Homo sapiens: one gene and its partner. The protein of the gene in region 1 interacts with the protein of each later gene in a biochemical or structural test. Each region holds a gene or a part of one and is shown on either strand. Other genes may lie near its edges. The genes, in order: SFRP2 and PPP1CC.

Region 1 (3,323 bases):
CGTGAGGACACAGCAAGAAGGCACCATCTGTGAAGCAGAAAGCCCTCATTAGACACCAAAATCTGCCGCCACCTTGATCTTGGACTTTGCAGCCTCTGGAACTGTCAGAAGTAAATTTCTGTTGTTTATAAACTACCCAGTATATGGTATTTTGTTATAGCAGTTGGAAAGGACTAAGAGACATTTAATGGACAGATGTCTGTCTCTCCTTTTTTACCCTAGTTCAAGTTTTCACCATCCCCTTCCTCCTCCTTGCATTCCAGTGGATACTCTCCAAATCATGGCTCTCTCTATCTGAGGGTTAGATTTGAGTCGGGGAAGGAATTAACATTTTTGCAGTGGTGATTCTTTTTCGGTATGAAAAATCTCAGGAAATGAAAAGCACAACTGTAAAGCTCATAAACCTTAAGTTTAGGGTAATGTTTCCACATAGCTGCAGCTGGACTGCTCAGAAGGGTCAAAAGAAGGCAACCCCTTTCTAGAGGCTGCAAGTCGCTGCTTCCACAGGGTGAAAGTGGTGAAATCTGTGAGATGTGGGGCATGGTGGTGGAGGGGGAGACACTTTCTGAGTCACTTGAGAAGTAGATCACTTTAAACTGCTGGAGGGCTGGGCTCATGGAAGGAAGTGACCACCCATACATAGCTCCATTCCCAGTTCCTTTTACTAAGAAGACAAGACAGAAGACAAAGAATAGGTAAAACAGGATGTAAAGTTTATATACAAGAATATAATGTTTATCTGAAATATTTACAGTGTTGGTTAAAGCAATATTTTTACAACTTTTAAAGGTAAACTACTATGTATATTACAGGTAAGCTACAATGGGTTTAATTTGCAAAAGTTAAGTAAGAAATGTTTTAAACAAGGCTTAAAGTACTCAAGTCAATTATAAAATTTATATCTTTTGCCTTTTACTTGAAGAAATCATGCTATAGAAATGGTTAATGTGCTTCTAATAAATGGAAGTATTGTAGCTGGAATGTGATACATGTAACAGTTTAAGTTCCCATTGAAGGTATAAAATGATGAATTGTTGTAAGACTTAGACACTGAGTCTCAGTCTGGAGCTGATGAAGATGTTGAGATAACAGCCAGCTTTATCTCAACAGGGTTTGTGACCCACAAGTTTGGGCCACAGAGAAAATTGAAGCAATTTGCATGTTATGACAACCTCAGTGGGAAGTGAAAATCAGCTGACTCAAAACAACAAACAACAACCAACCAGACCCAAGTCACAGTTGCACCTATTCAAAACTAGCTTTAAAGTGAGCTATTTTTAAACTTCATAAAAATATTCATGATTTTATTAGTTTGAATATTTCTACAAGATTCGGGTGGGCTTTTCCTTTAGGTGAAAACAGCTATCCACTCCTGTGGCCTTATAACTCAGGAAATGCTGGGGATGCAAACGTGCAAAAGGCAGGGGGAAGCTGCCCAGGCTGAGACTGGAGCAGCTAGGAGTGTGCTTGGGGAACGGGAGCTGAGATCCCGGAGCAGAAATGGTCAGCCGTGCTCTGGAGCAGGCCTGTCGGAGCCATCAGGATGCCGGGACTAGCACTGCAGCTTGCGGATGCTGCGGGAGATGCGCTTGAACTCTCTCTGCCCCTTCTGCCACCGCTTCACCGAGGTGATCACCAGCTCCCCACCCTGTTTCTGTCCCATGACCAGATAGGGCGCGTTGATGTCGTTCATCTCCTCACAGGTGCACTGCAAGCTGTCTTTGAGCCACAGCACCGATTTCTTCAGGTCCCTTTCGGACACACCGTTCAGCTTGTAAATGGTCTTGCTCTTGGTCTCCAGGATGATTTTGGTATCTCGGTTGATGTAGGTTATCTCCTTCACTTTTATTTTCAGTGCTATGAGGGAGGGCAGAAAGAGTCATGCCAGTTATAATGAGGGAATACAGTATACCTCCCCCCATTCTGCCAACTCGTGTGACTTGGCCTGGATGAGGAAAGAGAGGCTTCCTAGAGCTAATGGGACCCTCAGAGGCTGCAGATCGGGGGTTGGGAGCTAGGGGCAGCAGGTGGCTCCACTGCTAAAGCCTCAAAGCATTTGCCAGGCACTTGGTTTCCAATCAGCCATTTTTTCAAAACTCTCTCTTTGCGGGACTCAATTAACTTTTCTTCTCCTTTCCTCACTCACCCTTGTGTTTGTAAGAAAGTTGCATGTGGTGTGTGCTCTCTCCAACAAATGACTTCCTCTGTTGGAAACTTAAGCATGAAAAGAAATGCCTGACTTTTAGGTGAAATATGATCCCTCTGTGGCCGTAAAGTTTAAACTCAATTTATTATGCAAGAGGTTTTTGGACAAACCTGTAAGGAAACTGTGTCACGCAATCATTGTTTTCTAAAGATCAGATTACAGGGAAGGAGAATTGATCTTACAGCTGCATTTGATTTGGTAAAGCAGGAGAAACAATATGCAAGTCTCTTTTTAACAGCACAACGTGGTTAGTCATAAAAGTGTTTTTCTGAAGACCTCATCCTTATATGCTCTCATTTGCCAGTCCAAGGCCAAGGCGTTTACGGATCATATATGTACTGTTTCCAAAATGTATATGTAGACTCGTTAGAATGCGAAGACCAAAAGTAAGTGGTTTACTATAAAGGACACGTTTTATAGTCATGAACAGTATGCTCTGGGAAAGAAAGCCCTACAAACGTGTATGCTGGAATTAAATTTCAAGACTCCATGAAAGCAGGAAAAGAATAGAATTTTAAGGTTAGAAGGGATCATCCCATTAAAATTGCTTGTTAATACACAAAGAATCTTAAATCCAGAGAAGTTTAGTGACTTGCATGAGGTCACCCAGTTTAGGTTGTTTGCTAGAACTCCAGTTGCCAAACCTCCTCCTGTAATACCACTGTGGTGTCTTGAGGCAATGTCCATGTTTTTGTAGTGGTTGCAGCATAAACTTGCCCAGCTGCAATGTGTCCTAAGACCCTGTGTGCCCCTGACAGCTATTCTGTATAGATGATGTGTAAGTATGACTTCCTGACTTTGATGGAGTTTAATCTATGTTTAAATTAGTAATAGAGGAAGATTTTTCTGTGTTGCGTACAACTGTTTTTGAGATTTTCTTTTTTTTTTTTTTAAATATCAGAATGGGAATTTGACTGAGTATGGCTTTCTAGTCAACCAGGAAATTATAGAATCTCTAGCAGGTAAATCAAAAATGCTATGACTTGGCCAACCATGGTTTTGTCTGGTATGATATGCATCTGAACTGTGGTACTGAATTCTCAGTTTTTGAGACTCAAGTCGTGGAATAAGCCATACTTGTGGAAATGTTTCATGCTTTTGTGTCCTCTGCATTGGG
Region 2 (3,682 bases), on another chromosome or scaffold:
CCAAATGTGAAGGACACTCCTCTGTCATTTTCACCCCAGCCTAAGACATCTTTATCGGGGTCAGACCACAAAAGATCACAAAGAAGACCTTGATCTGGTACATCAGTTGGTCGCATAATTCGCCGAATCTGCTCCATAGATTGAAGATCTGGTGATAAACCTATTCAATGAGGAAAAAAAAAAAATGAAGAAAGCAGAACTTTTAAAAGGATACTACCCCTTCAAAAGTTCCATTTGTCTACAGAGAAATTCAATAATCCTGACATAAAAACTGAAATCTATGATTATATTTTATTTACTTTTGGTTAAAAGAAAAAAACACAGAAAAAGGACAACTGGATACACACTAGAATTACATGCAGTAATGCATGGGGTGCAGTAGGTTTAAACAGTACATGGAAACAATTATATTATACAGAACACTGTAAAATAAAATCCAGTGATTTAAAAAACTCTTCTATGGGCTTCCCCCAGTTGATGACAATAATGAGCGATGTTATGATTGATGGCTTATAATGACTGAGCTGAGAAGATAAGGATGCTCAGTGTGAGGTAGTTCTCTAGGAAACCTGCACTGTTCACAGACCATTAAAATCTACAAGAGCTTATTGTATCGAGTTACAATATGGGATGCATATTGTAAGAGTTAAAAACCATGTATCCAACTCTACCAAAACCTAAGTACAGAAGCACAGAGATAAAAGACATTATGCAGGCTTTTTGATGGCTAAAATCTACAAGAGCTTATTGTATCGAGTTACAATATGGGATGCATATTGTAAGAGTTAAAAACCATGTATCCAACTCTACCAAAACCTAAGTACAGAAGCACAGAGATAAAAGACATTATGCAGGCTTTTTGATGGCTGATTAATTTCAGACCATACAGGAAAAGAAATTCTCTTTGCAATTACTATTTTAATTACATTATAGAAAGCACAACCACTGAGCAAAGCAAAACAGCTTATAACATATATATGTATATATTTTCAGAGATAGGGTCTTGCTCTGTTGCCTAGGCTGGAGTGCAGTGGTGCGATCATAGCTCACTGCAGCCTTAAACCCCTGGGTTCAAGCGATCCTCCCGCCTCAGCCTCCCAAATAGCTACGGCTACAGGTGTGCACCATTACACCTGGCTAACTTTTACAACTTTTTCTAATGACAGGGGTCTCGATATGTTATAGGCTGTTCTCATATTCATGGCATCAAGCAATCCTCCTGGCTTGGCCTCTCCAAAGTGCTGGAATTACAGATGCGAGCCACTATGCCTGGCCAAAATAACTTTTAAAATCCAAGTCAGAGAAAGTTCTGAGAGGATAAAAAACAATCAAGGGAAAATCTACTCACATCTTGAGTGTTCTAGAGGATCTCTGGCACAACAAATTACACATTGTTCATTTTATAGTTAAAAACACTCTTCTGCCGGGCGTGGTGGCTCAAGTCTGTAATCCCAGCACTTTGGGAGGCCGAGGCGGGCAGATCACGAGGTCAGGAGATTGAGACCATCCTGGCTAACACGGTGAAGCCCCGTCTCTACTAAAAATACAAAAAATTAGCCAAGCGTGGTGGCGGGTGGCTGCAGTCCCAGCTACTCAGGAGGCTGAGGCAGGAGAATGGCGTGAACCTGGGAGGCAGAGCTTGCAGTGAGCCGAGATGGTGCCACTGCGCTCCAGCCTGGGTGAGAGAGCGAGACTCTGTCTCAAAAAACAAAAACAAAAACAAAAAAAACCAAAAACTTTTCTAAGCCGGGCACAGTGGCTTACACCTGTAACCCAGCACTTTGGAAGTCCGAGGCAGGAGGACTGCTTGAGCCCAGGAATTTGTGACCAGACTGGGCAACGTGGTGAGAACTCATCCTTACAAAAAATAAAATAAAAATAAAAATTTTCTGCTCTATTTTCAAACCTAGCTTACAGAGTCTAGAATTCCCTGTAATAAATCAATTCCTTAAGATTTTTATCCAAATGATCCTGGCTGTATCAGAGTGAAAGTGCAATGCAACACATCAACAAAGGAGAGTGTTCTGTCAGAGAAAGTCATCCCAATGATAACTCACAAATGTTAAAGTGTTCACCCTTTGGAAGGGATCAAAACCTATTTGGAACAAAAATCAGCCCACCTACCTCCATGACAGCAGAATATCTTCTCATCCACGATGGCTGCTATCGGTAAACAGTTAAAACAGTCTGTGAAAGTTTTCCATAGTTTAATGTTGTATCTTCTTTTACCTGTGATTAAAAAGAGAGTATTACATTAAAAAGAGAGTATTACTGTTCCGTAGGCTCATTCTCTCAGGATTAACTTCCCCCAAAGCAAGATTCTGGGTGCCTTTTAAGCAAATGAAACTATGTTTTTATTAAGAATCTTAATAAAACCATCTTATTTTAAGGCTCTTTTAAAATAAGAGCTGGGCGTGGTGGGTCAGACCTGTAATCCCAGCACTTCGGGAGGCTGAGGTAGGAGGATGGCTTGAGCCCAGGAGTTCAAGACCATCTTGGGCAACATAGTGAGACCCCATCTCTTTAAAGAAAGACTCTCCTAGAGGGAAGGGGTTTAGGAGAGACACATATCTGATCTAAAAGCAATGACTTACATTTTCACATGAAATCTTTTTAAATTCCACAGAAGCATGAAACCAGAATTCCAGATTTGATAATGATTAAGGACTGCCATCAAATCCCAGGAATTATCTGGGAGCATCAATTCTGTTTGAAATTGTCTGCTCTGTCCAATCTCACCGCAGCTAGTCCCCTACTTCTGAATTCAATTACGAACTTACACATGTGGCGTTATGACCTTCCTTCTGAGGAAACCTGAGAGTTAGCACCCATCCCCCATATATGCCCCTCAATAACCTACTGACACCAGAGGATCCCCAGCCCTCAGTACTCTAGCAGGAGGCACAATGATCACACGGCAGTGGCTGCCTCTCACAGGCACTACAGGGCATTTGTTTCCAACACTGCACAGACTCCACATGCTCCCACAGGCCTGATGTCACAGGATGGTCATGTTCCCTCAACAGCACAGGCATCCACACATTCTGGAGTCAGAGTGCAGTTCTGACAGAAATATGCCTCTATGCACTGTTTCTACAGGAAACTGATGTTCTGAGTTTAAAACCTAGTCACATACCTTGCAAGAACAAATTTCTCTGGATTGGTTGAGGATTGTCCAATTGTCCAGATGCCTTTGTTTCCTGTACTTACTATACTAAGCACAATCTTTAAAAACCAGGAGTTTGGCCAGGCGCGGTGGCTCACACCTGTAATCCCAGCACTTTGGGAGGCCGAGGCGGGCAGACCATCTGAGGTTGGGAGTTTGAGACCAGCCTGACCAACATGAAGAAATCCCGTCTCTACTAAAAATATAAAAATTAGCTGGGCGTGGTGGCGCATGCCTGTAATCCCAGCTACTTGGGAGGCTAAGGCAGAAGAGTCACTTGAACCTGGGAGGCGGAGGTTGCGGTGAGCCTTGATTGTGCCATTGCACTCCGGCTTGGGCAACAAGAGCGAAACTCCGTCTCAAAAAACAAAACAAAACAAACAAAACAAACCAAGAGTTTGTCCTTAGTCTCTTTTCCTGGGGAATACAGGGACATCTAAAGGTTTAAACCTATACCTCTCCTTTGAGAGTTAGAGCCAGCCCAAGCAACTGACCTGAACCACACCTCCCACCCTG

Evidence for each region.
Region 2: the proteins of SFRP2 (region 1) and PPP1CC form a complex in vitro, tested with the Homo sapiens proteins (one study listed by BioGRID).

Annotation. Positions count from the first base shown.
Region 1 is NC_000004.12:153,779,899-153,783,221, forward strand, and holds the end of SFRP2 (secreted frizzled-related protein 2 precursor), read right to left. Parts: intron 1,858-3,323; coding exon 1,553-1,857; 3' UTR 693-1,552; downstream 1-692. UniProt on the Homo sapiens protein: Soluble frizzled-related proteins (sFRPS) function as modulators of Wnt signaling through direct interaction with Wnts. They have a role in regulating cell growth and differentiation in specific cell types.
Region 2 is NC_000012.12:110,722,536-110,726,217, forward strand, and holds part of PPP1CC (serine/threonine-protein phosphatase PP1-gamma catalytic subunit), read right to left. Parts: intron 2,230-3,682; coding exon 2,125-2,229; intron 161-2,124; coding exon 1-160. UniProt on the Homo sapiens protein: Protein phosphatase that associates with over 200 regulatory proteins to form highly specific holoenzymes which dephosphorylate hundreds of biological targets.